4 separate regions of the Homo sapiens genome follow, and regions 1, 3 and 4 are each linked to region 2. The links come from fine-mapping of genetic effects on gene expression. A gene starts in region 2. Each other region holds a variant in brackets. All regions are shown on one strand. Distances are from middle to middle. Region 1 overlaps LNCOG (lncRNA osteogenesis associated). Region 2 holds the start of OSBPL8 (oxysterol binding protein like 8). Region 3 overlaps LOC105369850 (a long non-coding RNA gene). Region 4 overlaps OSBPL8 (oxysterol binding protein like 8).

Region 1 (8,111 bases), 260 kb after region 2:
ACCCTAGGCTCTCCCTTGTCTCCCTCTAGTCCTGGCTATGGAAGTGAGGACATAGGGCATTTGGGGGAGTAAATAGGTAATAGGATCAGTAGTTTAGAGATCCTCATTGGGTTGAAGAATTATTAAAATTGGGGTACTAGAGGAAGTGACTCAAAAATATGAGACAGTTTAAGATTTAGATGTTTGAGTGTAAGACTATGGAGTAAACGTGAGCAACATAATGAAATCTGTATAAAAAATAAAAAATTAGCTGGACACAGTGGCTCATGCCTGTAGTCCTAGCTACTCGGGAGGCTAAGGCAGGAATATTGCTTTCGCCCAGGAGTTCAAGGCTGCAATGAGCTATGACTGTACCACAGCACTCCAGCCTGGATGACAGAACGAGACCCTGTTGTCTCTTAAAAAAATTTTAAAGACTATGGAGTAGATACAATTCTTGCCATTCATGAAGTCTAGACGTGTATATGACTAAGGGAGTAAGCGGGTGGCTAAGAAGTGGAGGACAAAATCATTAAAGGTGAAGAAGTTGAGGAAATTTTAAAGGCCAGGGAACTAGAAGAATCATCTTCATGGACACTAAACCCCCCAAGAATCATGACTAGAGCTGTAGAGATAGAACTAGTAAACCTGGACCTAAAATTTTCCAGGAACGAGGGAGAGTAACTTCAGGTCCTACATAATTGAAACTTCTGTGATTCTGAGATAATCCCTTAGGAATTCTGTCCCTGCTGGGGAAGTCCCGGTGTGACAGCTGGTGTGACACAATGCCTGCTTACTGGATCAGACATTTCCGATGCCTCACTCAGGAGGAGGCTGAGATCCTGATATATATTAAATATATATTTTTAATATATTTTAACATATATTTAATATATCCAGGATATATTCAGAGTTGAGCCCAGTTATTGCATGGAATCCTTAACCAGAGGTTTAACGTCCAGATGAAGTGCTGCTCCTATTCCATGTTGAATGTTTTCTGACACAAAAGCAAGAATGCTCTCCCTGCCCTCCAGCTGTCAATAATTATAAAAGATGACCATCAAGAACATAGGTATAAAACAGAAGGTCTGGTCACAGCCCAGTGTGGGTTCTCTTGAGTTTTCATTTGCACAGAACCACGGCCACCAAACCACAGCATAGGTTTCTGCTGTTTTTGAGCCAGCTCATGGGTTAATGTTTCCCAGTCCTGGTCATTTGGAGTCAGTAGTCCACAGTGCATACTATGCATTTTCTTCTTCATCCATTCCCATCTTAATCCCTACAGTGACACTTCTAGTCACCCCCAATCAAAAAATGTATAATTATTTCCAGTCTTCATTCTTCTTGATGACATTCTATCATAATTTGCCTGATGACTGTCCTTTTCTGGTTTGATCCCCCACACTTTCCCCTGCTGGTCCCTTTCCTTGCACCCTCTTCATTCTGTGATCTCGTATCCCTTTTGCCCTGTAAGGGCTCACTTGTTGGCTCAAATTCATCCCAGACTGAACTGAACTAGACAATTTACAAATTTTCTGAATTTATAAATTTTCTAACTTAGTAATAAGCTGATGTTGCTGGTGGTCCTGTTCTGGCCTTGTTACCCTGGGAGTGGGACTAGGTTTCTACCTGTCCATACTTTCCAGAGGTTGAGTCCTAAACACGCTGGAGGAGGCTTTGTTCCTCTTAAGATGACAGGCAGCTCAGATTAGTTCTCTCCTCTGTCACATTAGACCAAGCGCTTACCACCTGACCTCCTGATTAAGACAACAGACTTGTTGCTGAATTATTTGGCTCTGGGGTCTTCCCTTCTCTAACCCCTTAGACACTGTTGCCAGCAAAATTTTCCCAAAGCACACGTCTACAGGAATGACATTCAAAAAAACCAACAACTGGTATGGCAACAACTGGTATGTGAGCCACTGTGTCTGGCCCATAATTTTCTTAATAATACTTTATTTTCTCTAGTTTACTTTATTGTAATAATACAGTATATGATCTATATAACATATAAAATGTCTTAATTATTATTAACACAGGCCTGGCATGTTGGCTCACACCTGTAATCCCAACATTTTGAAAGGCCAAGGCAGGCGGATCACCGGAGGTCAGGGGTTCAAAACCAGCCTGGCCAACATGGTGAAACCCCATCTCTACTAAAAATACAAAGATTAGCTAGACGTGGTGGCGAGTGCCTATAATCCCAGCTACTTGGGAGGCTGAAGGACGAGAGTCACTTTTATCTGGGAGGTGGAGGTTGCAGTGAGCGCAGATTGCACCACTGCACACCAGCCTGGGTGACAGAGCGAGACTCCATCTCAAAAAAAAAAAAATTATTATTACCACATATTACTGTGTTATCAGTGAGACTTTTGGTTAACAGCAGGCTATTAAGATTTGGGATAATCAAAAGTTACATGCATATTTTTGACTACATGAGGCTCAGCACCCCTAACCCCTGCCTTGTTCAAGGGTCAGCTGTATGTCAAAATTCTAACAACTGCTATAGTCATGTTGGCATACTAGGTGAACTCTAGACTTCTATAATGTCATTTCTCTTGTCAAGAACATTCAATAATAGTCCATCTTTAAGTACTGGATCAATGAGTATACATCAAAGTTCATTGTATCAGATACCAATATACATCTTCAGGAAGGTGGGCTCTGAAACATCTCAAACAGGCATCTTTAGAAGCAAACCTCATTCCTTGAAAATAATTTGGAATGGCCTCACCTGAACCCTAGTATTTGCACTTTGTCTGCAACAAGACTGTAACACAGAGGTGTATATTACACAAGGGCATTTGGGTAGAGGACTGTGCAGAAAAGTTTTTGGAATTCCAACAGAAGGGAGTTTCAAATGGGGATCCAAAGTGGCTATTCAAGGCCGGGCATGGTGGCTCATCCCTGTAATCCCAGCACTTTGGGAGACCAAGGCAGACAGATCGCTTGAGCTCAAGAGTTCAAGACCAGCCTGGGAAACATGGTGAAACTCTTTCTCTACAAAAAATACAAAAATTAGCCAGGCATGGTGGTGCATGCCTGTAGTCCCTAGCTATTCAGGAGGCTGAGGTGGGAGGACGACTTGAGCCCATTGTCACGCACGTCCGCGTGAAGAGACGACCAAACAGGCTTTGTGTGAGCAACAAGGCTGTTTATTTCACCTGGTTGCAGGTGGGCTGAGTCCAAAAAGAGAGTCAGGGAAGGGAGATAGGGGTGGGGCTGTTTTACAGGATTTGGGTGGGTAGTGGACAATTACAGTCAAAGGGGTTTGCTCTCTTATGGGCAGGGGCGGGGGTCACAAGGTGCTCAGTGGGGGAGCTTCTGAGCCAGGAAAGGAATTTCACAAGGTTAATCACTCAGTTAAGGTGGGGCAGGAACAAATCACAATGGTGGAATGTCATCAGTTAAGGCAGGAACCAGCCATTTTCACTTCTTTTGTGATTCTTCACTTGCTTCAGGCCATCTGGATGTATATGTGCAGGCTTGGGCTCAGAGGCCTGACATTCCCGTCTTCTTATATTAATAAGAAAAATAAAACAAAATAGTGTTGAAATGTTGGGGCGGTGAAAATTTTTTGGGGGTGGTATGGAGAGATAATGGGTGATGTTTCTTAGGGCTGCTTCGAGTGGGATTAGGTGCGGCGTGGGAACCTACAGTAGGAGAGATTAAGCTGAAGGAAGATTTTGTGGTAAGGGGCGATATTGTGGGGTTGTTAAAAAGAGCATTTGTCATATACAAAGATTCGTGATGGCCTGGATGCAGTTTTGTATGAATTGAGAAACTGAACAGAAGACGCAAGGTCTGAATAAGAGAAGGGGAAAAACAGGTATTAAAGGACTAAGAATTGGGAGGACCCAGGACATCCAATTAGAGAGTGTCCAAGGGGGTTCAGCGTAATTACTTGTTTGGTTGGTGAGTTTTTGGGCTCTATTCTTGACA[G/A]AGTCCTTTTTGTTAAGTTGGAGGCTGAGCTTGGTGAGGTGTGTTTTTAAAAGACCATTAGCCTGTTCTACCTTTCGTGAAGATTGAGGACGGTAAGTGGTATGAAGGTTTCACTGAATACCAAGAGCCTGAGAAACTGCTTGGGTGATATGACTAGTAAAGGCCGGTCCGTTATCGGACTGTATTGAGGTGGGAAGGCCAAACCAAGAAATTATGACCGCGGTGGCCTTTTCAGACCCTGTAGGAAAGGCCTCTACCCATCCAGTGAAAGTGTCTACCCAGACCAAGAGGTTATTTTAGTTTCCTGACTTGAGGCATGTGAGAAAATTCAATTTGCCAGTCCTGGGCCGGGGCAAATCCCTGAGCTTGATGTGTAGGGAAGGGAGGGGGCCTGAACAATCCCTGAGGAGTAGTAGAATAGCAGATGGAACACTGAGAAGTGATTTCCTTAAGGACAGATTTCCAAGATGGAAAGGAAATGAGAGGTTCTAAGAGGCGGGCTAGCAACTTGTAACCTACATGGAAGAGATTATGAAATGATGATAGAATAGAATGGGCCTGTGAGGCTGGAAGGAGATATTTTTCTTAGTCCAAGAACCATTTGCCTTGTGTGGGAAGAGATTGATAGGTGGAAGTTTCAGTGGGGGAGTAGGTGGGAGTGACTGATGAGAGGGAGAAAAACTGGCCGTGAGGGACAGAAGTTGGAATGCTAGCTGCTTCTTTAGCTACCTTATCAGCATAAGTGTTACCTTGAGCAATGGGATCTGATGCCTTTTGATGGCCTTTGCAGTGAATGAATCCAGCTTCCTTTGGAAGTAAAGCAGCCTTGAGAAGAGTTTTTATTAAGGAGGCATTAATGATGGAGGACCCTTGAGTAGTGAGGAAACCTCTTTCAGCCCATATAACAGCATGGTGGTGTAGGATATGGAAGACATATTTAGAGTAAGTATAAATATTGACGTGTAGTCCCTTTGCAAGAGTGAGGGCCTGAGTTAAGGCAATGAGTTCAGCTTACTGAGAAGTAGTGGAGGGAGCAGAGCAGTAGCCTCAATGATAGATGTGGAAGACACTATAGCATAGCCTGCGTTTGTTGGTGAGTGGCTATTAGGCCTGCTGGAACTGCCATCAATAAACCAAGTGTGATCAGGATGAGGAACAGAAAAGGAGGAAATATGGGAAATGGAGTGAATGTCAGGTGGATCAGAGATACAGTCATGGGGGTCAGGTGTGGTATCAGGAATAATGTGGGAGGCTGGATTGAAGTCCGGCCAGGAACAATGGTAATTGTGGGAGACTCAACAAAGAGTGAGTACAGCTGAAGGAGCTGGGGAGCAGAAAGTATATGCATCAGGTGGGAGGAAGAAAATAGATTTTGGAAGTTGTGAGAACTGTAGAGAGTGAGTTGAGCATAGTTTGTGATTTTTAGGGCCTCTAAAAGTATTAGGGTGGTGGCAGCCACTGCACAGAGACATGATGGCCAGCCTAAACGGTAAAGTCAAGTTGTTTGGACAAAAAGGCTACAGGGCACGGTCCTGGTCCTTGTGTAACAATTCCGACTGCACAGCCCTGCACTTTGGCTGTGTGTAATGAAAAGGTTTGGGATGCAGGGAGAGCTAGTGTGGGAGCAGTCTCTAAAGCTGTCTTCAAGGAATGGAAAGAGGAGTGGGGAAAGGATTTAGGATCTATGGGGTCAACTAGGTTTCCTTTTGTGAGTTTATATAATGGTTTCATTAGGAGGCAAAACCAGGTATCCAAAGGCGAAAGTATCCAACCATGCTTAGGAAGGAAAGGAGTTGTTATTTTGTAGAAGGGATTGGGGTTTGAGAGATCAGTCAGACATGATTGGCAGGGAGAGCACGTGTGTTTTTATGAAGAATTATGCTGAGGTAGGTAACAGATGGAGAAGTGATTTGAGCTTTGGAGGATACCTGATATCCTTTGGAGAATAAATGTTGAAGGAGCAGGAGGGTGTCTTGTTGAGAAGATTCAAAGGAGGCGCTACAAAGTAGAAGGTCATCAATATATTGAATAAGGTGAGAAGTGGAGGGGTGGAAAGAAAGTAAATCATGAGAAAGAGCTTGGCTGAAGTAACGAGGGCTGTCCCTGAAGGCTTGCAGCAGCATAGCCCAGGTAAGCTGCTGGGACTGATGGATGTCAGAGTCAGTCCAGGTAAAAGCAAAGAGAGGCTAGGACAAGGGGTGTAGGGGAATAGTGAAAAAAAGCATCTTTAACATCAAGAATGGAATAGCGAGTTGTGGAGGAAGGTATTGAAGACAAAAGAGTGTACAGGTTGGGCACCACAGGGTGGATAGGCAAAACAATTTGGTTGATAAGGCACAGATCCTGAACTAACCTGTAAGACTTGTCTGGTTTTTGAACAGGTAAAATGGGAGAATTGTAAGGAGAGTTTATAGGCTTTAAAAGTCCATGTGGTAACAGGCGAGTGATAACAGGCTTTAATCCTTTTAAAGCGTGCTGTGGGATGGGATATTGGCGTTGAGCGGGGTAAGGGTGATAAGGTTTTAATGTGATGGTAAGGGGTGCATCATCCATCGCCAAGGAGGGAGTAGAGGTGTCCTATACTTGTGGATTAAGGTGGGGAGATGCAAGGACAGGATGTGAAGGAGGCTTTGAATTGGGGGGAAAGGCGGCAATGAGGTGTGGCTGTAGCCCAGGAATAGTCAGGAAAGCAGACAATTTAGTTAAAATGTCTCAACCTAATAAGGGAGCTGGGCAGGTGGGGATAACTAAAAAGGAGAGCATAAAAGAATGTTGTCCAAGTTGGCACCAGAGTTGGGGAGTTTTAAGAGAACTTAGAAGCCTGGCCATCAATACCCACAACAGTTATGGAGGCAGGGGAAACACGCCCTTGAAAAGAGGGTAATGTGGAGTTGGTAGCCTCTGTATTGATTATGAAGGGGACGGACTTACCCTTCACTGTAAGAGTTATCCAAAGTGTCTGTGATGGTCCTATAGGCTTCCCAGGCAATCAAGCAGTGTCAGTCTTCAGCTGCTGAGCCGAGAAGATCTGGGAAGGAGTCAGTCAGAGAGCCTTGGGCCAGAGTTCCAGGGGCTCTGGGAGTGGCTGCCGGGTGAGTTGGACAGTCCATTTTCCAGTGGGGTCCTGCACAGATGGGACATGGCTTAGGAGGAATCCGAGGCTGCGGGCATTCCTTGGCCCAGTGGCCAGATTTCTGGCACTTGAAGCAAGCTCCTTGGGGAGGAGGTCCTGGAGGAACACCTGGCCACTGCAGTTCAGACGTTTTGAAGTTCTTGTGTGATGGAGATGTGGCTAGAGTTTCTCTCACAGTAGAGGCAAGTAATTGCAACTCAGAAATAGTTGCTACTTGGCTGCCTCTACTCTATTATTGTACACCTTGAAGGCGAGGTTAATTAGGTCCTGTTGTGGGTTTTGAGGGCTAGAATCTAATTTTTGGAGCTTTTTCTACTGTCAGGAGGGGATTGGGTAATAAAATGCATATTGAGAATAAGACAGCCTTCTGGCCCCTCTGGGTCTAGGGCAGTAAAGTGTCTAAGGGTTCTTGCCAAACGGGCCATGCACTGGGTTTTCATACTTGGTGAAAAAGAGCCTAAACGCTAACTGATTTGGGAGAGGTTGGATAAAGAAAAAGGAGCATTAACTTTGGCTATGCCTTCAGCTCCAGCCACCTCTCTAAGAGGAAATTGTTGGGCAGGGGGGGAGGGCTAGTCGCCGAATGAAGCTGTAAGCCAGACCAGGCGTGATGAAGGAAGGTAATAGAAGGGTTATAGGGTGGGGGAGTGGAGGCTGAAGAAGAGTTGGGACCTGGATTGGCCTGGCAAGGAGCAGCCTGGGGAGGAGGGGAAAGGTCAGATGGGTCTGTAGAAAACGAGGATTCACATGACTCAGAGCTTGGGGTGGAGACTGAAGGAACTGACAGGAGAGAAAGAAGAAAGATTTGGGACGAGTTGCATTGGGAGCAGAGACTAGGGAGGGACCAATGTGTAAAAGAATGCCTGGATGTCAGGCACCTCAGACCATTTGCCCATTTTTTGGCAAAAATTATCTAGGTCTCGTAGGATGGAGAAATCAAAAGGGTCATTTTCTGGCCATTTAGAACCATTGTCAAGTTTGTATTGGGGCCAAGCGGTGTTGCAGAAGAAAATAAGACACTTAGATTTTAGGTCAGGCAAGAGTTGAAGAGGTTTTA
Region 2 (8,111 bases):
TGTTTGTGTGTGTGTGTGTGTGTGTGTGTGTGTGTGTGTGTGTATAATGCAGGTAATGGGTTTTGTGTCTTTCTTACAAGGTCACGAAAACCAATGCTCCTAGTAACTGGGTTTAGCACATGCCCTTGAGATAAAAGTTGGCTGACTCTGCTAAACTCTAGGTTCCTGCCTTCATTTAGTTTTTTAACTTAATAATTTCTTACCCTATTGTCAGTTAATCAATATATTTAATAAGATTTAAAAAATGTTTTTTCCAGGGATTTTGTTTTCAGTGTGACAAGTGTGAACTAGTCCTTGATATTTCTAGAAACAGAATCCTATATTCTCTTTATACTTTACTATCCAAATTTTCCTCAAGGGATATTTAAGACAAATAATACTAAACAGAAATATTTAAAATCAGTATGTAAATATCTTACATGCAAACATTTTGCATGCAAATTTACAGATTTTATAAAGACTGCTTCTTAACATAAATTTTAGGTGGATATTTACCAAATAGCTGGTTGACTAGTTTGTAGATGTCTGTTATTTATTTTATTAAATAGACAAATATTATTGTTCCACAGTACATTTAGCCTTTGACTCATGAGTTTGTTGGCTCAAATTCACTTTAGATGATTTGCAAGATTATGCTACGCAACAAACAATCTCAAAAATATTTGTGATTCACAACAACAAATATTTTTGTTTTACTCTTGTTTCACATCAGTAGCCGTATGTCAGGAGCTGCAAGTCAGTTGCTTCAGTTCTGTACAGGGTGAGAGTTTCAGGTCTGCTCCATCTATTTTCTTATTCTGAGATCTTATCTGGAACATACCTTTCTCATGGCAGGTGGCACAAGAGTAAGAGATTGACCTGAATTTTGCAATCAAATTTAAAGCCTCTGCTTTGATTTAGCATTTAACATCTGCTCACAAAGCACTGGCTAAAGCAAATCACATGACCAACAAGAATACAAGTCTTCAAAGCTGTGTTGAATACCTTATTTATGGCTGAGGTTGCTCTTAATCTAAATTCTCTTCCAGAAAATGAGGATTTTAGTCTAGAATCCTGATTAGTAATTGTCAGCAACATAATTGTCTAATGGGATAAGCCAAATGGAAAAAAGCAAACAACCTCAAGCAACATCTCTGTCATTCTAGGTCAGGGTTGAAATATACTGTGGGAAAGGCTGTCAAGCCTGTCAGTGCTTAAACTAATTTGGAAAGAACTTCCCATTCTTAGAAATGTATAATTAATAAAGCAGTAGGCAAAAGAGATGAATTCTCATTGGAGTTAAAATCGGATCGTTATAATAAAAAAGCTTTATTTCAAAATGTCATTCTTAAAATCATTGTAAGAGTAGCAAACTTGCAGGGCATCTCTGGGAGTTACTGAATATTTTTCAGTTACAGTGCAGGATCACATATTAGTTTCTGTTTATGTTGTCATTACATTGAAAATGCTAGATTGAATTATCATTCCTGGAATCACAATATCAGATTTGAAAGGATCTGAAAAAATGATTTTTCAACTGTAGTGGATTAATATATTTTTGTGTTGCAATCAGTTGTTAAGTATGTCAAAATCATTAGTTATTCATGACAAGTAACTATTATACTAGTGATAATCAAAGTAGAGAAGATTGTGAAAGATATACTTACATTTGTTTTGCAATATCTTCACTTTCAATTACTTGCATTAGGACTTTCTTTTTTTTGAGTGGAGCTGAAAGAAGTTAAACGTAGGCTGTCAGTAATTTGCATAATCCTGAGTATACCGTGTCTGTTTGTTTCCAATGTGATTGCCATCCACCGGGAAAAAAAAAAGGTGGTTTAGTATCATTTCTCAAACAGCATGTGGTCCTACTTGATTGGAACTTGAAATGCAGGGAGTAATTTATCTAGTCATACATCTCATTAGCTAAGTCTGTAACCTAGGCTTCCTTGCTTCCAGTACATTGCTTTTTCCAACAAATGATCAAATTTTCAAAAGCCAATGTATGAAATTGGGGCTGAGGCAGAAGAGAATTAGGCAAGGCAATTTGCCACCTTTTTCTAATCTTTAGTCTCAGTTTCCAAAGTAAAATAAAAGTACCAGAAAAACGGGGTCCAGATGGTGTATTTTGCATATTATCTATGCTCTAGGAACATTCTTTTCCAAATCTATTTGATTGCAACTCACAGTAAGAAATTGTTTAAATCACAACATAGGACATACTCTCACCTTCCACCATATTTGAAACAAAAAGTTTCAGGAAGCAATTTTTGCCCTTACTAGACATTATGCACTCTGGTATTTTATATTGTATTACATCCTAGCCTATTTCATATAAAAATGAAATTGATTTTTGAGTTGCAGGTTGAAAAACATGCCTCTAGAAAACAGGAGACAAGTTAATCTGTTAACAAACTCCAAAGTTACTAGCTTTGCTGAAATAATGTCACAGAATAATAAACTTCCTTCACATTTATTTGTACTACAGTCTCTCAGGCTTCAGAACAGAACCTGGTAGAATCTTTTCCTCTTTGGAACACCAGTTCATGACAATATCTCAGAGATTCTAAGACTCGTTGTTTCCCAGTTCATGACAATATCTCAGAGATTCTAAGACTCGTTGTTTCCCAGTTCATGACAATATCTCAGAGATTCTAAGACTCGTTGTTTCTGACATGTTTACATCTCTGAATTCAAGATGTGTCTCAGGCCGGGCGCGGTGGCTCATGCCTGTAATCCCAGCATTTTGGGAGGTCGAGGCGGGTGAATCATTTGAGGTCACGAGTTCAACACCAGCCTTGCCAAAATGGTGAAACCTCCTCTCTACTAAAAATACAAAAATTAGCTGGGCATGGTGGCGCATGCCTGTAATCTCAGCTCCTTGGGAGGCTAAGGGAGGAGAATCGCTTGAACCGGGAGGCGGAAATTGCAGTGGGCCGAGATTGCGCCTCTGCACTCCAGTCTGGGAGACAGAGTGAGACCCTGTCTCAAAAAAAAAAGGAAAAAGATGTGGCTTAAAGGTGCCTTACATATCAGCGGTATGGCATAGTTTCATTGGCAGCCTTTGTTTTCTTTCTTGGGTAACATAAAACAATGTAAGTCTATGATTTTTTTAGAGCTGCTATGAAATATATTAATAATAATTATATAGGCCAAACTCTATTGCTTATTCATTTCAATGTATCCAGCTTATCAGAATGCCTTCTGATTTCTTGTTAAGAAAATGTAATGAGATGAGAATAGCTTAAGAAAAAAATCCTTAGTTCTGGGCTACAAGGGAAAATGAGTTATGACCCCAATTTAATTATTACAGAAAGCTTTCTCATTTGCCTTCATTGTGATCAGGGTTTGAGTATGATCTTTATTCTACCTCCCTTACTTCTGTATAGTTAGGATTTCATTAGGCGGCTAGAGGGTTCTTCGGATCATGGCTAAAAAAGAAAGCAAAAGGTTAAGTCCTAGAGTTAAGGAATTAGGAAAAAAAAATTAAGGCATTAGAAAAAAAATCAAGAATTAGGCTTTATTTTAAAAAATGGAACAAACTGTCAAATTCCTGCGTACCCGTTTAAACTGTCACCAACCTAACACACTGTAAAACTTAATGACTGTAAAACTGGCAGCAGGATCCTGAACATAACAAGGAACAAAAATAAGTTTGCTAGGCTGTTTTCATCCCAGCATGATTGAAATACACCGTTTCCTCAAAAAAAAAAAAACCTCTAATGAGGAAAGCAGTAAATTAAATGCCACGGTTAATGTGCCACTAGAAATAGGAACAAGTAGTTTAGTTACCGAATGCTTCTTAGGCCATACACTCTACACCACGATGCGTTCTTTTTTCTGTTTCGCTAAAGCTTTCACCAAGCCTAAGGCTGGAGAGGGGTCCTAACTGAGCCCTGACCAGACCAGGGAGCCCTACTGTGCAATCTCCTCAGGTTAGGAAGGGCCCAGTATGACCGGCCCAGAAGGCCTGGCCGATCAACAGGCGCTGGGCCGACGGTGGTGGGCTCGCTTCCTGAGGCTGCCCTTGGGCATGCGGAAGGGGACTGGCTGGCGATAACACCCTGGCGAAGCAAGGTGGACAGTGACTCCCGCCCGGTTCGAGCCCGCCTAGCAGGGGAAGCAACTCCACCACCGCCTCCGCGCACCGTCACGTGACGGGAAGAGGGCGTGGCCGAAGCCCGTGATCCGGGGGGCGGGCGGGGCAGGGGGAGGGCACTAGAATGTGAAGGATCTTCGCGGTTCTGGGTGCCCAGAAAGGCGGCGACGCGGCGGATGACAACATTAGGCCGCGACGCGCTCCTGGCCAGGCGGCGGCTGTAGTGTTAGCTTTGGACGCCGCAGTAGCCGCTGCCGGTAGCAAGCCGACTGAGGGAAGGTGGGGGTCCGCCCGGGCTGGTGGACCTCGGGGCCGAAAGTTCCCGCCCCGCTCGGGGGCTGAGCCGGCAGTGCCTCCGCGGCCGCTGGGCAGCGCCCTTCGTCCAGGCTCGCGCCCCAGCTGCCGCCGACGACAGCGGCCGAGAGAAGTTGGGGTCTGACTAGACGCTTACGGGGCCTCGGACCCCGGCGCCGCGGCGACCTCGGAGGAACCGGCTCCTTGCGTCCCGCCTCCCTGGGAGCTCCGCACGGGTGAGTGTTGCTCCATTCCTGAGGTTGGGGTGCTGGGTTCGCACCCCTCAGGGCGACTGCGCACCCTTATTGCCACGTTCTGAGCTCGGGCTGTCGGGGACTCCTGGCCACCCCCGCCGAGGAGTTCTTTGGCTCCTTTGTTCCCTTTTGGAGTAGGGGGATTGGAAAGGCTGGCAGGGTGGAGTGTTTAGGGGCCCACAGTAGGTGCATCTGCAGCCTTACAAAAGCCGCGGCAGGGGAACGGGGGTGGGAGGCTGTTGGAGCATTTCGACCGCCCCGGGTGTCTGTCCCTCCTGAAGTTTGATAGGTTGATGGCATGGGCCTCGTTGGGAGCCCCCGCGCCCAGGAGAGCTGGCGCTTTGTCGCTCGGTGCGGTTAAGGCGAGGCTCCTTCTTTCCTGTGACAGCCCCAGAGAAGGCTGTGCCGCGCACCGCAGACCGCACCCGCCTTTGCAGAGCCAAGCGACACGGTGTTGTTCCTCTAAGCCTCAGTTCTCCCGGCCTTCTTGTAACGTAGGAGGAAAGCCAAGCCTTTGCTGTGCTTTTAAATTTAATGTTTGTTTCTAAGCCCTCTCTCAAGAGTGGAATCAGGTTCCAAGGAGCTTCACAGGCAGCATGCTTTAGGTTCATTGAACCACCCACTCAAGACTGGCTGAGGCGAAGCAACAGTATATGCAGATTTTCCATTCACAAAAGTCATTTAACACTCTTCTTTATGAGACACATCTGCGTTGCAGAACGTAACCTAATTTCATTTTATTTAAATGCTTTCTGAAATAATAGGTAACTTGGACAACGTAAACAGATGGGTAAACTTTAACTGATAATGTAAGTATATATGCATTAAATAAAAAATTTAATGATGTTTTTGCCTTTCTGCTGCTAGAAGACTTAAATGACGTCTGAGTAGTAATACAGTGTCTCCTGCATGGCAGTTAAGTTTTTCCCAAAATTAGTGCTGCTTTTGAAATAATCCTTTAAAACAGTTTTTGCCTCCCTTCGTATCTAGAGAGAGCAAGAATTGTGGAGAATCGTGGGTGAATTGATTGTTAAATTTTGCTAATTTCCTAGAGTTTCATCTAAACTTGATTTTGCTGAGAGGCTATGATCAGTTTCTATGCTTGCTAGAACCTGTTTTGCAGTGAAATTATTAAGATCATGCTAGTTTTATAAAATAGGTTGGAATAGGAAAAGTAAGGCCATGCAATTTAAAACTGTTCTCTATAAAAGTACAACTAATTTCAAATGTTTGTTACTTTTATTTTTTTTTAATATTAACCGTGTATGGAGTGACTATAATATACCTGCTCAAAGGGCTGAGAAAGGAAATAGATGAAACTTAAGCTACCTTTTGGGTCTTTAATTATGGACATCAAGTTATTGCGGTCACATTCCATGTCAACCGTTTGAACAGCAATACCGTGTACACAGGTGCTTAGAAATGCCTGTTTAATTAAAAATGGCCATGGTTTATTTCTCTTTGATTGAATCATAATAGTTATTGAATCTCTGATCTGTGGAAAGATGCTACTGTATTTTCCTTAGAATGTTACTGCATTTTAAAGACAGTCAAATATGTTTTTTATAACACATTCAGGGTACTTATACATTTGTCAATATTCAGTTCCTTGGTTCATTTAAAAATTGGAAGCCTTAGAAAACACTTTGGGGATAAATTTACAATTGTGTATAATGAATTTATGTTTTAGTTTGCTTTAAGAAAAATGATGAAATTATGAATTTGTAAAATATGCATTACAAAAGGATTTTTTTTTTTTTTTTTTTTAAGACTGTCTCACTCTGTATCCCAGGCTGGAGTGCAGTGGTGCAACTTGGCTCACTGCAGCTTCTGCCACCTGGGTTCAAGAGATTCTTATGCTTCAGCCTCCTGAGTAGCTGGGATTACAGGTGCGTGCCACCATGCCAGGCTAATTTTTGTATTTTTATTAGAGATGGGGTTTCACCATGTTGGCCAGGCTGGTCTCCAACTCCTGGCCTCAAGATCCGCCCGCCTCAGCCTCCCAAAGTGCTGGGATTACAGTCATGAGCCACTGTGTCTGGCGGATCTTTTGTTTAAAAGTATGAATTGCAGAATTTTAACCAGTGTTAGTACATTTCAACTTGGCTTTGGTTTGTAAATAATCCTTCAAAAGTAGATTACTTGAATTAAGGCATTAAAGACAAAGAATTGATACAGTACATAGATCTAGTTTTCTAATATTAATTTGGAAAACTTTTATCCTAATATTATCCTAATAACAATGCCTGAAATGTCATGTTGTAATGTTTGTATTATATTGAAAGTTAAAAACATTTATAGCAATGTTCTTGGAGCATCAGGCAATTCAAAGAGGACATAGGTCCTGCCTTAATCTTACAAATAATGACCTGCAAATAAGACAGAAACACAACTTGAATAAAAAAGCCTTTGAGAGGCCAGGCCCGGTGGCTCACGCCTGTAATGCTAGCACTTTGGGAGGCTGAGGTGGGCAGATCATGAGGTCAGAAGTTCAAGACCCGCCTGGCCAACATGGTGAAACCCCGTCTCTACTAAAAATACAAAAAAATTAGCTGGGCGTGGCAGTGTGTGCCTGTAATCCCAGCTACTTGGGAGGCTGAGGCAGGAGAATCGCATGAACCCAGGAGACAGAGATTGCAACGAGCCAAGATCATGCCATTGCACTCCAGCCTGGGCGATAGAGCAAGACTCAGTCTCAAAAAACACCAAAAAAACAAAAAGCCTCTGAGAAATATACAATTTTTAGTGAAGGTGGCTGGGTACAAGGAGATTAGTAGAAGTGCTTGACTGGAGCAGTTGTGGCCAAAGTATAGCTTCCTTGTGATGAGACACAGGAAGAGATGTCTAGACTCATGTTGTGTGCATATTTCATGGCAGTATGTGGGAAACCCCTGAGAGATTTTAGATCTTTCTTCCCACCTTGGTCCCCATCCCTCACATATCCTCACAAAGTCATAAAATTCTCATGTGGAAGGCGTGATAGAAGGAATTTTTCTTCCTGAAAAGTGTTATCAAGCTTGCAAGGGAGAGAGCTATTTTCGGAGACCTTATAGGGAAGAAATCCTAGTCCTAGAGCATCATATTCTTATACCCTGTTATTTTTACCTTTGTCGAAGATCCAGATAATGTAAATTCTCCATGATAGCAAGGACCTTGTCTGTTTTGCTCACCATTGAATCTCCAAATGTTCAATAGTTAATGAATGAAAAAAGTCTACTTCCAGATATATGACTGGAGAACAAAAGGAGTATCTGATAATGTAGTCCAAACTAAATGCAAGCAGCGAAATGATAAAGGAAGGATGTTAGCTTGGGAGAAGGGGAACAGGTCATTTAATCTGGGAAACTTTCTTGGAGGAGGTGATTCTTGAGTTAGGTTTTGGTGTGGGCTGTGTGTCTGAAGATAAGCAGTGTCTAAGGGGGTAGACAACGTGCAGCAAAGCATTTAAGTCAGACTGAATAAATTATGTCAGATAAAGCACAGTA
Region 3 (8,111 bases), 30 kb before region 2:
TGTGCATTCTTAGGCTTTTCAGGATTAGAAGCACTTGTTTGGTATGAAGGGGACTTCTATGAGGGCACACATGAAGTCTCCATTGAACTGGAAACTATAACTATCACATGATCATTTTAGATCACTTGTGTCAGTGGACCATCAATGAAAACACTTACTATCTTGGTGGTGATAACTGACCTTGATTACCCATATGAAATAGAGTTGCTGCTACCCAATGGAGACAGGAAGTCCGATGCATGGAACACATAGGATTCACTGAGTTATTTCTTCGTGCTCCATGTCTGGTGATAAGTATAAATGGGTAATTGTAATAATTAAGACTCACTGAAGAGCAAGAATTAGAGTTCAGACCCTTCAGAGATGATGATCTGGTTGCCCCCACCCAGTCAAGCAACACAGACTCCCTGAAATGGTAGCCAGGATGAGACAAACTAGAATAATCTTTTTCACATCCTTTCAGCCTACCTTTTATACCAACTATTGCTATGGCAACCAGTTTTGTGCAACTGTACCACATATTTATCATTTCAAAACCTGTGCTGCTCTGATGATATGGCATGGATGCCAATGAGAACCCACTCTGCGCTTAGGCATGTACAACCTGGAAGAGTAAAGAAGTTAACACTCTCTGGGACAATCTTTGACTGCACTTGTAATCTATTGCTGGATAACAAGTTACCAAATCTAGCAGCCTAAAACAATAACATGTATTATATCCCAGTTTCTGTGGTCAAGAGTACAGACACAGCTTATTTGGATTTTCTGCTTCCAGGTCTCTCCAGGCTAGAGTCAATGCATCAGGTGGGCTGTGTTCTCATTGGGAAGCTCATCTGCTCCCAAGCTCATATGGTTTGCCGAACGAATTTATTTCATTGAGGATATAGGACTGAAAGCTTCAGTGTGCTGGTTGGCTGTCAGCTGGAGGATGCCATTAGCTCCTAGAGTCCATTCAAGTTGCCTGCCATGTGGTCTACTCCATAGGCAGCAACATAGCAGTTTGCTTCTTCATGGCCAGCAGAAGAGTCTACTAGCAATATGAAGTCTTACATAACATAATGTTATCATAGGAATGCCATTCTGTCACCTTTGCCATATTCTATAAGTTAGATGCTTCACAGATTCCTCCCATATTCATGGGATGTAATTAACAGGGGCATTGATATCAGAAAGTGGGGGTCATTGGAGAATCAGCCTAGGTTCTGTCTGCCAGTCTTTCCTCAGGCCCTCCCATATGAAATATATGGTTTCTCCCCTTCCAAGGTTCCTGTATTAGTCCGTTTTCACACTGCTGATAAAGACATACCTGAGACTGGGAAGAAAAAGAGGTTTAATTGGACTTACATGGCTGGGGAGGCCTCAGAATCATGCTGAGAGGTGAAAGGTACTTCTTACATGGCGGCGGCAAGAGAAAATGAAGAAGATGCAGAAGTGGAAACCCCTGATAAAACCCCTGATAAAACCATCAGATATCGTGAGACTTATTTGCTACCATGAGAACAGTATGGGGGAACCTCCCCCATAATTCAAATTATCTCCCACCAGGGCCCCTCCCACAACCCATGGGAATTGTGGGAGTACAATTCAAGATGAGATTTGGGTGGGGACACAGAGACAAACCATATCAGTTCCCAAGAGTTTCATTCATTATAGCATCAGCTCAAATTCTAAAATTTCATCATGTGAATCAAGTCCAGGTGCAGATGAGCCTCCTACGTATAACCTGTTAAGTAAAGCTCCTGGACACAATTATTCTCTAACTATGGACCTCTGAAACCAAGGAAATGAGTTATCTGCCTCCAACACACCCAACATACAATGGTGGGACAGACACAGGATAATAGCTATAGACATTCCAGTTTAAAAATAGGGGAAATGGGTAGTAAAAAGGAGTCACTAGTCTATAGCAGTTTTGAAATACAACTGGATTTATTGGAAGTTCCTTAATTAAGTTTCTAGGCTTGGGAATGATTCTTCATGGCTCTTGGCTCTGCTTTCTGGGTTCTTGGTTCCACCATCTGAGTCATTCTTCCTTTTTCATGGAAGGTAGCATGTGTTTGCAGATGAGTAGTTTTATCAGCCTGCTTTCTGCCAGTAAAATTTTGGAGGTCTGACAGCCTCTTTTCATTTTCTAGTCTTTCTGTCTGTCTTATTCCAAGTTGGCACTGTTTCTGCAGAAATAATTTTCTCAAGAATGTTGTGGTTCTTTCTGTATTTCAGTGGCATTCACTCTTATCAGACAAAGGCCACATCTACAGATTGTTTCAAAAATAATTCCATCTCCTTTAAGCTTCCTAGAGGCTCAATAGTGTGATTGAGAGGATCTGAGGCATACCCTTAGATCTTTTCAAATCTAAGGGCCGTATCTTGAAATACCCCTGAGTACTCTGACCTTTGATCTTTTGGGGGCTTTAAAAAAGATTATAGAGTAACTTCAAGTGCATTTTCTCTAGAGTAGGCTTTTCTGACAGTGCCCAAAAGCCATCTCCAACTGTTAATATTTTTTGCCATCTGGGGAAGATGAGGATTTTTTAAATTATCAAGTCCTGATTCCTTTTTGCTTAATAGTTCTTCTCTCAATTTGTCTCTTTTCTTGAATTTTCCTGTAAGTAGCAAGAAGAAACCAGTTGTCCCCTTCAACACTTTGCTTGGAAATCTCCTTAACTATATAACCAAATTCATCCATTTACAAGTTCTGCTTTCAACGTAATTGCAAGAAATAATTTCACTAAGCTTTACGCCAGTACATAACAAGGATCTCCCTTCTTCCAGTTTCCTATAGCATGTTCCTTACTTCCTTCTGAGTCCTCAACAGCAGTCTTCAATATCCACATTTCTACTGAGAGTTTGTTCGCAGTGATTTGGGATTTGTCTATCATACTTTTCAAGCATTCTTCTAGTCTCTGTCCACTGATCAGTTTCAAAGCCACAGACATATTTTTACATATTTATTACAGTAGCATTCTACCTCTAGGCACCAAAATCTCTATTAGTTTTCCAATTCGATGTAACAAATTAACACAAGTTGAACACATTAAAATAACACACATTTACTATCTCTCTTTCTGTAGGTCAGGAGTCCAGATACACCTTAGTTGGGTTTTCTACTTTGGGGTCTCTCCAGGCTACAGTGAAGGTGTTGGTTGGACCATGTTCCCATCTGAAAGCCTGAAGAAAGAAGAATCTTCTTCCAAACTCTCTCAAGTTGTTGGGAGAATTCATTTCCTTACAGTCACAGGACTGAGAGCTTCAAGATTTTGTTTTGTTTTGTTTCTGTTGGCTCTCAGCTTCTACAAGCCACCTCTGAGTTCTTTGCCACATGGTCCTCTCCGATAGGCAGTTCATAACATGACAACTTGTTTCTTCAAGACCAGCAGGAAAGTGAGAGAGTGAGTCGGCTATCAAGACAGATTCTTACATAATATAACATAATCATGGGAGTGATATCCCATCACATTTGTCATATATTGTAATGCATGTATTACATTACATCATGGGAGTAACATCCTATCACCTTTGCCTTATTCTTCTGGCTGGAAGCAGTTCACAAGTTCTACCCAGTCTTACGGTGAGGGGCATAAAGAAGGTCATTAATACCAGAAGGCAGAGATCATTGGGGGTTACCTTAGGATATGTCTGCCACATTGGGGGAAGGCAGACAATTCTAGGTAGCTATTCAAAGATCCAGAGAAATGAGCCTGAGTTACCTACAACAATGTTCAGATTGATTAATGTATTCTTGAGTTAGCTTTCCTTCCTTTCATGTCTTAATTTTCCTAGCCCCTCACTCCTATTCACTGGGATCTCTTCCCAAAATCAACTATCCGCACAGAAGTTATTGTCTCAGACTCCGATTTCAGGGAAGAAGCCAGGCTAAGATAGCAGAAGAGAATAAACTTGTATAAATGGTATGCTACAAGTTAGGAGGGATGGTAGGCAGGAGGTTCTCCTCCTCAGAAATTAATTACCCCCTACCCATATATTTCTCTACACTATAATGAGGCAGTGCTAAAAGTTCATGGAAGAAAGCATGCTAAAGGTGCTTTCTCTATGCAAATCTCAAGATACAGCATCTTAACTCTCTCTTTCATAAAATTAGAATTGGCCCAAGATACTAAATTGGGCTAGGCTGGCAAGTGGGGTTCAAGTAGTTTCCATTGTAGGGAGAGAAATTTAATAAGTGTAAACCTGGCAGAGCTCAAAAAAGAGCAACAGAAGTACTTGAATACAAGGGATAAAACTATTAAAGAACATTTTTCACAAATAAGCCTTGTTTCTTCAATTATCTCTATTTCCACCATGCCTGCCATCTCAAGTGATGACTATCACTCTGCTCTGGCCAAGTTATATGTCAAATCACAAAGGTGAAATGAGATGACTGTCAGGTCATATGTTTGAGGGGGAGGAATGGAATTACAAAGAAAGGGATACCATGACACTTGGAGAAAGAGTTATGAGGAAAGAAAACCAATGGGGTGCTTAAGAAAAGGGCTTGAGTCAGAGTCAGCTGGATACCATGTCTGACACAGTGAACTATGATAATCCTCACAAAACATTTCTAAAATGATTGCCTTAGGATTGCACTGGCTGCATGGCCAGGGTTCTCATTTCTCATTTCCTTTTCTTAGAATTAAGGTGATGCTCTTTGAAATGTCTAAAGATAGATGACTACCATTGGTAGTCAACCCTGAGGTTTTTTATGTACAGGCCCAGCACTGAGCTAAGTGTTTTGTATGCAATTGCACAACATCTTTATGAGGATAGATGCTATTATTATCTGTTTCTCTAAGCATGGGGAAACTGTTAAC[C/T]TCAGGGTGTTGAGTAACTTGCCCAACATCATACAGCTAGTAAATAACAGAGCCAAGACCCAAGACCTAGGCCCGCATTTGCTGGCTTAAAAGTTTAAGCTTTTTGCTTTTTTTTTTTTTTTCCAGTGGTGCTATCTAAGCTTACTGCAACCTCTGTCTCCCAGGTTCAAGCAATTATTCTGCCTCAGCCTCCCAAGTAGTTGAGATTGCAGGCATGCACCCCCATGCCTGGCTAATTTTTAAATTTTTAGTAGAGATGGGGTCTCACCATGTTGGCCAGGCTGGTCTCGAACTCCTGAACTCAGGTGATCCATCTGCCTCAGTCTCCCAAAGTGCTGGGATTACAGGTGTGAGCCACCGTGCCTGGCCCCAAGGTTAAGCTTTTAACCACTGCATCACACTGCACCTCAGGTTTCAAGATAGGGAAACTCAATTTTTAAAAATATTTATAAAGCATTTACATTTTTTCCATATCTCATTTTATAAAGTGTCTTAGCTAGTAAGCTTAAAAATTATTTTCTTCGGCCAGGCATGGTGGCTCATGCCTGTAATCGCAGCACTTTGGGAGGCCGAGGCTAGCAGATCACCTGAGGTCAGGAGTTTGAGACCAGCCTGGCCAACATGATGAAACCCCATCTCTACTAAAAATACAAAATTAGCCAGGCATGTTGGCACGTGCCTGTAATCCCAGCTACTTGGGAGGCTGAGGCAGGAGAGTCACTTGAATCTGGGAGGCAGAGGTTGCAGTGAGCTGAGATCACGCCATTGCACTCCAGCCTGGACAAAAAGAGCGAAACTCTGTTTCAAAACAAAAATAAATAAATAAAATAAAATAATTTTCTTATCAAGAAAATGCAAATTAATCTGCAGTGACAGAGAGTGGATCAGTGGTAACTTGAGGATGGGAAAGTCCCAAGAGTGGCAGGAAGAAGAAATTACAAAATAGCATGAAGAAACTTTCGGGAATGAAAATCAAAATTTGTAAACATATTTATCACTGCCAAAAGTTAAAGAGTCTTGCTCAAGATTAGCCTGAGAGTTAGTAGCAGAGACAGGATAAAAATATAGTTTTTAAGCTTCTTGAACAAGTGTTTTTTTCCTCTCAATTTGGTAAATTATTTCCATATGGTTTTAAAAAGGATATGAAGAGACATAAAATATGACATGAGTATTATAGAAAGAAAATTGTGTTTAGGAATTTTGGGCAGCACTATTCACAATAGCAAAGACATGGAATCAGTCTAAATGCCCATCAATGGTAGACTGAATAAAGAAAATGTGGTACATAGACACCATGGAATACTATGCAGCCATAAAAAAGAATGAGATCATGTCTTTTGTGGGAACATGGATTGAGCTGGAGGCCATTAGCCTTACCAAACTAACACAGGAACAGAAAACCAAATACTGCATGTTCTCACTTATAAGTGAGAGCTAAATGATGAGAACTCATGGACACAAACAGGGGAAAAACAGACACTGGGGCCTACTTGAGGGTGGAGGGTGAGAGAAGAGAGAGGAGCAGAAAAAATAACTTCTGGGTACTAGGCTTAGTACCAGGGTAACGAAATAATCTGTAAAACAAACCCCCATGACATGAGTTTACCTATATAACAAACGTGCACATGTACTCCTCAACCTAAAACAAAAGTTAAAGAAGAAAGGGAGCCTGTGAAGCCCCTCAGTCACTCCTCCTACATCTCATCCTGTTCTCCCACTGATCTAGCTTAAAGTCTTCCTGCTGGAACATTTCACCCTATACCAGGTGGTGGGGAAAAAAATTTTTTTTATTAACTTACGTATCTCAATTGAGCATTGGAAGTCTATTGTGAATTCATCTGATGAAAAAGTTGAATGCATCTCTTCAGAAGTTTATCATTATCATCTGCAATCTACTGAGAACTTTTTAAAAAATGAATCCTGCAATTGTATGGCCAGCAGGGGGCAACTAAATACTTCCCAAAACAGCATCTTGTATAAGAGAACAAGTTAAAATTGGAGACTGTTAGCATTCTTAGCTGTGTAGGAGAGCTGACTTCCTTCTAAAATGATAATTAACACCTAGACACATTCTCACAATACTGAATTTGTGAAGATAATTGGAACAGTTTCCTAAGTGGACAGATTATAAAACCACATTCTGGGGCCTGTATGTGGCAGATTTGTTTTGGCTGTTTTTTCAGTCCACAAGGTTCCTTGCAAAAATTTATGTATTTTATGATGAATAGCTTTGTAAAACTTCTTGTATTATAGAAAATATAATGAATCTTGACTTATTTCTGTAGGTTATTTTAGAATTCTGCTATTTTTACTTAACATTCAAAGATAAAAGTAAATAGGGATTGCAGAGGATCTTGTTCTTAAAGTATAATAAAGAATCATTTCTTAGCCCTGTTTTATAGAACTAATTTTTAAGCTTGTTATATTAGTTAGGGTTGTCCAGAGAAACCAAACCAACAGAATGTGTATACATATAGATATTATAGATATAGATGTTTATTTTAAGGAATTGGCACACATGATTGTGGGGACTCAGTTTCTGCTTGAGTCCAAAGGCAACCTGCTGGCAGAATTCCTTCCTTCTCTGGGGAGGTCAGTCTTTGATTTATGAAGGCCTTCAACCGATTGATGAGGCCCGTCCATATTATGGAAAGTAATCTGCTTTACTTAAAATCCACTGGTTAAAATGTTAATCTCATCCAAAAACACCTTCACCAAAACATCCAGAATAACGTTTAACCAAATATCTGGGTACCACAGCCCAGCCAAGTTGTCAAATAAAATAACCATCACAGTTGCCTATTTCTTTACATCACAGTCTCAAAGTCGTAGGAGATCTATATGGTGAAATAGCTCAACCCTCCTCCAGATGCAGCTGCAATGCCTGGCAAAGAGAAAGCATTTAGCAAATATATGCTGATTTGAATTGAACTGAATGTATATGAATTGAATTAAATATCCCTAGTGGTGGCTAGGTTCTGCCAGGCTTCCAGTGCGGTGCTGGGAGGTAATGGAAGATAGAAGTTAGGCACAGGCTCTGGAGTCAGATAGGTCCATATGCTGAGGCTCCCCTACTTACCTTATATGTACCTTTGGATGAATAACTTAATTTTTCTAAGCCTACATTTCTTCACCTATATAAAAACAACAGTCATAATAGCTATTTATGCTACATATTGCTTTGTTAATCAATATTTACTTCTCTTTCCTTTCTGGCCACTCAGTGGATTGACTGTATTCCTCAGCGACCCTACAACTGAATGGAGCCATGTGACTTGGTCTGGCCAGTGAAAACTGTAGATT
Region 4 (8,111 bases), 190 kb after region 2:
CAGCCACTCAGGAGGCTGAGACAGGAGAATTGCTGAACCCTGGAGGTGGAGATTACAGTGAGTCGAGATCACTCCACTGCACTCCAGCCTGGGCAACAGAGTGACAGAGACTCCATCTCAAAAAAAAAAGCACATAACTGTATCTTTTAAAAGTAGTCATTATGTAAAAATGAGAATATGGATGAAATATGTTTTGGATATAAGGTAATGAATACATGTTTGGGCACATTGAGATTGAGACATTTTTAAGACTTTCTACTGTAGATGTCTGGTAGGTGTTCTAAATATATTTTGTTTGTTTTGAATTGGTTGAATAAGTTTTGTGAAATTTAATAAACAACATTTTATTTCAGGAAACTCATTATCTGCAATATTAGAGGGAGAAGCACGGTTAACTTTCTTGAATAGAGGTGAAGATTATGTAATGACAATGCCATACGCTCATTGTAAAGGTAAATATTTTCTATACTTGAATTAGATATTAAGCTTTCCTTTTAAGTAAATGTATGTAGCTGTGATTTGTTATGCTTTGTGATTGATGGAGTCAGACTTACATTTTGTTTGAAAGCATCCTTGGATTACAGATATTTAAGATTATTGCTATCATTTGCTGAATATTTCTGCGGTGAATTAATTCACCTGTAATGGACTCTTTGTGATGTGTACTTTAGTCAGAAGAGACTGATTTATCATAATGGAATTTCTTTGCACTTGCCTGATGTGCAAATTTTCAAATTTGACAAAACCGTCTATTATTTCAGAATCTGTAAAGATGATTTTCATCTTTTTGCACCACCATGCTTTTTTAAAATTTTAATTTACTATTTTTTAATGTACCAAGTTTTTTAAAGATTTTTCTCACCCTCATTTGGCAATTTCTTAATGTATTATGCTTTTTGCCCCATTATTTAAAATACAGATAAGGGTATTACATAATAATTGTCATCTATAACATTACAACATGCTAGGCACCCAACTGTTCAATGCATTTATTTAATCATTTCAGCAGCTCCTATAAAATAGAAATATTATTATTCCCTTTTTTAGAAGAGGAAAAATGAAGCACAGAGAGGTTAATATGCCTGAGATCATACAGCTAAAATGTGGCAAGTCAGGATCTGAACCCAGGTGGTTTACCTCTGCACTCTGAACTTTCAACTATTTTGCATCAGTTTAGTGTGGTCATGATGTGTATCCTCCCTTCCAACCGGTTTCTTAAAATCTTAAAAATACCTTTTTTGGTAATTATCCTCTATTTTGGGAACTGATTCATGAAAACATATAAATTATTCAATATGAAAAGTGGGCAAAGGATACGAACAGACACTTTTCAAAAGAAGACATTTATGTGACCAACATGAAAAAAAGCTCATTATCACTGATCATTAGAGAAATGCAAATCAAACCACAATGAGATAGCATCTCATGCCAGTTAGAATGGTGATCATTAAAAAGTCAGGAAATAACAGATGCTGGAGAGGATGTGCAGAAATAGGAACAATTTTACACTGTTGGTGGGAGTGTAAATTAGTTCAGCTATTGTGGAAGACGGTGTGGCTATCCCTCAAGGATCTAGAACTAGAAATACCATTTGACCCAGCAATCACATTACTGGGTATATACCCAAAGGGTTATACATTATTCTGCTATAAAGACACATGTACACGTATGTTTATTGCAGCACTATTCACAATAGCAAAGACTTGGGACCAACCCAAATGCCCATCAGTGATAAACTGGATAAAGAAAATGTGGCACATACACACCATGGAACACTATGCAGCCATAAAAAAGGATGAGTTTATGTCCTTTGCAGGGACATGGATGAAGCTGGAAACCATCATTCTCAGCAAACTAACACAGAAACAGAAAACCAAACACCACATGATCTCACTCATAAGTGGGAGTTGAACAATGAGAACACATGGGCACAGGGAGGGGAACATCATACACTGAGACCTATTGGGAGGTGGGGGGCAAGGGGAGGGATAGCATTAGGAGAAATACCTAATGTAGATGATGGGTTGATAGGTGCAGCAAACCACCATGGCACGTGTATACCTATATAACAAAGCTTCACGTTCTGCACATGTATCCCAGAACACACAGTTGAGAAATCTCGGAGGGCTGAATCTTATCGAAGGCCAACCCAGCATGTACAAAAGAGCCTAACTTATGGCCTTAGTCTAGATTATTCTTAGAGCTTCAAGTATAGTTCTTGAAGTAAGCATGGAGTGAAATATCTTTAATTATGAATTGATAAGAACACATATTTTTAAATTTTCTATCATTTAGAAAAAATAAAACTATATTCCATGTAGATATCCATGCGCTACTTAGCTTACAATAGGGAAAATTTTTTATAGCAATGCATGGAAAAAGAAAAGAAGTTATAACCACTTGCGAATGAGCATATGAAATGATTTTTATAAGATGTTTCACCCTGTATGTTTTCTAAGGTGTGTTCCCCCAAGTCACTAGTCTCACAAATTGTTTTGTAAAATAAGAGTTCCATAGCCAAATAAATTTGAGAAACATTGCATAGTCTGTTCCCCTCTCAAAAGATAATATTGTACATTGCATGTTAAAGGCTGCCTTAGCATCTTAGACCAACAGCAGATACACACACAACCTGTTTAGCTTTGTTAAACCCAGAGTTTCCCCAGCTTTTAACCACAGAACTTATTTTGTAGTTTTTTGTTTGCTTTGCTTATGCATTTGATTCTTGTTATTTGCAGTAGTTATGTTACATAAAGTCACCACTGAGTTAGCAAATACTGAGCCATTGCTCCTGGGGGAGTATGAGATTGGATTCCTGTGAGCCTCTTGTGCCAACATTTTCATCAGCCAGTTAATCAGTACATAACCTTGTTTTATATATGCTTCTATTTAAAGAAACCTGATGTAATTATAACATTAATTACATATTATTGATTCATTAACATTGAACTAACAGCCAACAGAACTAAAGCCTAAACGTAGCTTTTAACACACATTTTCCCTGTAAAATACAGTATAGCTTTCTTGCACTTAGGAACACTAGACAGCACTGCAACACTACATGTGGGTCCATTTTAAACAGCAAAACCACCAGTGAAAAGCACAAAATGTGAAAACATGATACTAAATACACTGCAAAAAGGACACTTTTTTTTTTTTTTTAAAACAATGTGGGAGCTGAACCAAGAGTGTTTGCCTTGCTCAGCCTCAGCTCAGAATGTGTGCATTGGGTGACTCAAATTTTTCGCTACTCTGCACATGTCTCCAAATGACTACAGAAGTACTGTGGGTATTGATATTTTACTGAGTAGGTGAATTTACAGATAGGGAATCTGCACATAATGTGAATCAGGTGTTATCTATTTATATCCTACAGAACCAACTGTATGTCTATATTATAGTTTTTCATTTGAGTGGGACAGAGTGATTTTGAATTATGTTTCTCCTAAAAGATTAGATTACTAAACTGTTTATCGTGAGCCATATACTATACTATACTCTTTTCAATTTTTTGTCAAATCTTTTTCCTTTAGGAATTCTTTATGGTACAATGACACTGGAGCTTGGTGGAACAGTCAATATTACATGTCAAAAAACTGGATACAGTGCAATACTTGAATTTAAACTAAAGGTTAGTAGACAATACAGTAGGTATCACCTAGCTAAAGGAGAGCCATACAATAAATATTGAATAAAGGGCACCATGTATTTCCTAATTAAGGACTAAATGTAAGAACACAATTTATGTCATGTCAAGGATAAGTGCATCTAAGGAATAAGGGCAAGGCTGGGTGAGTATCTTCGGGTAGCCTAAGATAGCAGCCTTGGAAAATTCAAATTAACACAAAAGACATTTTTTGTTTTTCATCTTAATTAATAAAACTGTGGGTATTATATAGAAGATGAGATTTAAGAAGTGATTGGATAGAAATTTCTTAGTAAATTAAAGGATTGTTTTTACCAAATACCAGAAGATATGTGTCATCTTGCAGTCTAGCTGTGTAAACCAAGGCACAGTTGTATTAGTCACTATTTCTGTGTAATAAGTTACTCTAAAACTCACAGACTTAATAACTATGTGCTGTTCCTCATGAGTTCTGTGAGT[C/T]AAAAATTTGGACAGGGTATACTGGGGATAGCTTATCTCTGCTTCATAATGTCTGGGGTCTCAGAAAGACTTTGTAGGCCATGGGTGACTCAATAGTTAGGGACTGTAATCACCTGAAGGCTTATCACTTACATATCTGATACCTGGTCTAGGGTGACCGAAGGACTAGAACTGCTAATCTGAGCACCTGTATACATGGCCTTTCCATGTGACTTGATTTCCTGACAGCATGACAGCCTCAAAGTAGACTTCTTACTTGGCAGTTGAGGGTTTCAAAGTGCAAGTGCCCCAGTGAGCAAGACAGAAACTGCATTTCCTTTCCATGACCTAGCCTGAGAAGCCAAATTATATCACTTCCACCATCTTCTATTATTTGGAGAATTGTAAGACCACCCAAATTCAAGGAGAAGAAATATAGACCCCACTTCTCATTGGGAGAGTGGCAAGGTCTCCTTGAGGAAGAGTATGTGGGCTGAAGGGGAGAGGGTACGTATTGTCAAGGCCATCTTTGGAAATTTTTGTCTGCCTCAAAATGAAAGGGAAATTTGAGAACTTAATGTGAATTAATTGTTCTTGAACAATAGTATATTCAGATAAAAATATTTCTGTAAACTAGTAATATTTATTACTAAATTGCTGCTATGTTGATATCCAGCTGATAAGCAATTTTGCTCTGATAAAAAAGACCTCTTAAGTATTATTTGATGCAATGTCTTTTATTTTATTTTTCTTTCACCTTGGCAAAATTTTCCTTGTATGGTGATGATAATGTTTGAAGATCATGATGAATGAGTTCTTAAGTATATATGATGCCTTTAAGTATGACATTGGAGCATCAAAATTTTGTCTCTAAGGAGAGATGTTAGTAAGGCATTATAGTAACTCAGTGTATTCCTTCTAATTTTATTTTTTGGAGGCTTTTTTTGGCTATATATTTTACTTTTGTTTGTTTGTTTTTTAAGGAAGGGGTGTTATTTATTTCAATGGATCGTTAATTCCATTAGGTTTATTGAGTTGTTATTGCTTAAGATAACGTCACATTGATAGGGCACAGTCTTGACAGGGGAGGACACAGGATTTGAGCATACATGGAACATGAGTCAGTTATATCAGGGTGATCTTTCTTAATATGTTTATTTTGATTTAATATAGTCTGCTTGTTTTATCCTATTTTTTTCATAGCAGCAATTCAGATTTCTTATTAAACATTTCTAACTAAAATTTGAGTCAGTATTTTTTTACTGCTTGTGCATTCAATAGTACTGTAACTATACAAGCAATTTTTGTTGGGTTTTTTGTTTTGGTTTTACATTATATGTAAATATAAGTGAAAAGTAAAATGTTTAACATTTTCTCGTTTAAAAGCCATTCCTAGGGAGTAGTGACTGTGTTAATCAAATATCAGGGAAACTTAAACTGGGAAAAGAAGTCCTAGCTACTTTGGAAGGTCATTGGGTAAGTATTTTGTATATGAGCTTTACAAAAAGAATTTTATTCTGTGGGAAAAAAAAAATCACATTTAAAATTTAAAACTTATTCCGTTGCTGAAAACATCACTATTTAACATAAGCTTCATCTTAATAGCAGATATTTTGGTGGTGTTCTGTTATCAACAGTAGTTAATTTTGTGTAATATTTTATTTCCAAAACTTAAAATCAGTAGAAATAGCTAACACTTATATATGACTTACTGCATTATTTAAGAATGTTACTCATATTAACTGATTTAATATTTATAACATATAACGCTATGAGGTGAGTATATAGGTGCCATGCCCATTTTATTATTGTTTATTATTGTCCCCATTTTACAGAAGAGGACACTGAGGCACAGAGAGTTCACATAATTTGCTCAAAGTAGGTAGTGGAACAAGAATTAAAGCCCAGGAACCCTGGCCCCAGGACTGTGCTTTTATGCACAGCACTCTACTCACATAGAAGAAAGAGGCATAGTTCCAATTAGAGTTATATTCCTTTCAGTGGAACATGGAAAGGATATAGTGGTGTGTGAGAGCAATGGCTTTTATTTACTTCTCTGCTAACCTAAATTCATATTTATGTAATTTTGTTAAGAGACGCTTAAATGAATAAAAAGAATCATGGTACTGCATGGATATACCATACTATGAGCACTGAGTATATGCTCCTTTCTGCATGCAGTAAGCAGAAAATGTTGAGAAATATGAGAAAGTGAAGTTAGGGACTTTGTTAAGTGGCCACATACACTCTGAAAATTTTTTTTAATTGCCTTAAATCTGAGAGTCTTCTGGAAAAAAGATAAAGCAGCAGTCATTTTTAAAAAATGAAATTTCTGTCTGGGTGGGGTGGCTCACACCTATAATTCCAGCACTTTGGGAAGCTCAGGAGTTTGAGATCAGCCTGGGTGACATAACAAGACCTCTTCTCTACTAAACATAAAAATAAAAAAATTAGATGGGCATGATGGCACATGCCTGTCCCAGCTACTCAGGAAGCTAAGGCAGGAAGATTGCTTGAGCCTGGGAGGTGGAAGCTGCAGTGAGCCATGATTGTGCTACTGCCCTCCAGCCTGGGTGAGAAAGCAAGACCCTGTCTCAGACAGATAGATAAGATAGAGATGAGAGTGAGAGATGACAGAGAGAGAGAGAAGGAGAAGGATGGTTAAACAGGTAGATAAATTAGATAGGTAAAATAGATTAGATAGATAAGGTAGATAGCACCGCTGCACTCCAGCCTACACAAGAGAGCAAGACCGTCCATGTCTTAGATAGAAAGATTATTCGATAGAGATAGACCTCAAATTTTTAATGCTAGTAAAGGCTCTTTCAGAGGGATGTGTGTGTGTGTATGTTTGAGTATATTGAATCCATGGATAGTCAACAGCATCTCATTGTAGCTGCAACAAATACTATGCTCTACTTGGACAGTTTGGAGATGGTTATTGAGGCTTTGCATGTAATGTTTGAAATTTATTAAGTAAAACTTATGAAATTTCACAAACTGGATATTCAACCAAATTCTTTTTAATTAACTAGTATTACGTAGTCAATCTTAATGTTTTTATAAAAATGATAAGAAACTTGGAGTTTTTGGAAAAGTGCTAGTTATATTTGTTTTAAAAATGCTTTTAACTGGAGGATTAACCAGAAGAAATTATCACCGTCATATTACTATACTATATAATTGCCTTCTAAGTATAATTCTTTACATTAATTTTGAATTTTTTTAAATATAGGATAGTGAAGTTTTTATTACTGATAAAAAGACTGATAATTCAGAGGTTTTCTGGAATCCAACACCTGACATTAAGCAATGGAGATTAATAAGGCACACTGTAAAATTTGAAGAACAGGGAGATTTTGAATCAGAGAAGTAAGTATACTGTTTTACAGCTAACTTCATGAGGATCAGAGAGTAGTTTTTCAATTCCTTAATGATATGGTCATTTTGTCACCTTCTGTCATATCTTAATTCAGCAAAATAGTTTATCATTTGTGGAAGTGACAGTATTCTGTTTTTGTGTATATGAATGTCAAATATAATATAAATCGTCTTGCTTTTCTGTAGCTCAAAACTACTCATTTTTTTCTTTCTCAATTGTTCCAGCACCTTAAAAAAAAAGAAAGAAAGAACGTTTTTGTTTAAATAAGATTACAGGACTAATTAATGACTCTTAGTTTCTACCTGGCAACAGTTTTCTAACCTGATTTAAGCATTAGAACTCTAGGTAAAGGGAGTGGTGCAGAATCTACTTCTGTTCCATTCTCTGATACAAAAGTAAAGTTACTGGATGGACTGGCTTCTATAGGATTTATTAGTTGGGTAATAACTAAGGCTATCATTTCTGTTCTTAAGTCATGAACTTCTTGCTAGATGGCTTATATTTTTGAATCAGAAATATTGTATACACATTCCCTATTTTATTGTTGTTATATCTTTGTGTTAAGAGAAAGAGACTTATGTATAAGAGATATTTTGCTAGGCACTTAGTACTTATTATGCAACTTTGTCCTCCCTACATGTTTGC

The links. PIP is the estimated chance that this variant, and not a neighbour inherited with it, causes the effect.
Region 1: its variant is fine-mapped to the expression of OSBPL8 in blood mononuclear cells (TOPMed, PIP 0.92).
Region 3: its variant is fine-mapped to the expression of OSBPL8 in whole blood (INTERVAL, PIP above 0.99).
Region 4: its variant is fine-mapped to the expression of OSBPL8 in blood mononuclear cells (TOPMed, PIP above 0.99).

The regions. Positions count from the first base shown.
Region 1 is chr12:76,292,747-76,300,857 of GRCh38, reverse strand. It overlaps LNCOG (lncRNA osteogenesis associated), which reads right to left. Exons shown (of 4, transcript NR_146531.1): 3 at 6,853-7,045. Among named protein-coding and RNA genes, the nearest start is that of LNCOG, 37 kb to the right of the region's middle. The variant G/A (reference allele first, on the strand shown) is at 3,922.
Region 2 is chr12:76,555,894-76,564,004 of GRCh38, reverse strand. It overlaps OSBPL8 (oxysterol binding protein like 8), which reads left to right and starts at 4,234. Exons shown (of 24, transcript NM_020841.5): 1 at 4,234-4,608. LOC105369850 (a long non-coding RNA gene) reads right to left here and starts at 4,103. Exons shown (of 4, transcript NR_188081.1): 1 at 3,772-4,103; 2 at 1,647-1,710. RefSeq lists a silencer at 4,404-4,593 and an enhancer at 5,004-5,313.
Region 3 is chr12:76,585,632-76,593,742 of GRCh38, reverse strand. The region is part of intron 3 of LOC105369850 (a long non-coding RNA gene); the gene reads right to left. Among named protein-coding and RNA genes, the nearest start is that of OSBPL8, 30 kb to the right of the region's middle. RefSeq lists a silencer at 4,388-4,588. The variant C/T (reference allele first, on the strand shown) is at 4,809.
Region 4 is chr12:76,370,793-76,378,903 of GRCh38, reverse strand. OSBPL8 (oxysterol binding protein like 8) reads left to right here. Exons shown (of 24, transcript NM_020841.5): 16 at 354-452; 17 at 3,534-3,631; 18 at 5,471-5,560; 19 at 7,320-7,456. Among named protein-coding and RNA genes, the nearest start is that of BBS10, 26 kb to the right of the region's middle. The variant C/T (reference allele first, on the strand shown) is at 4,106.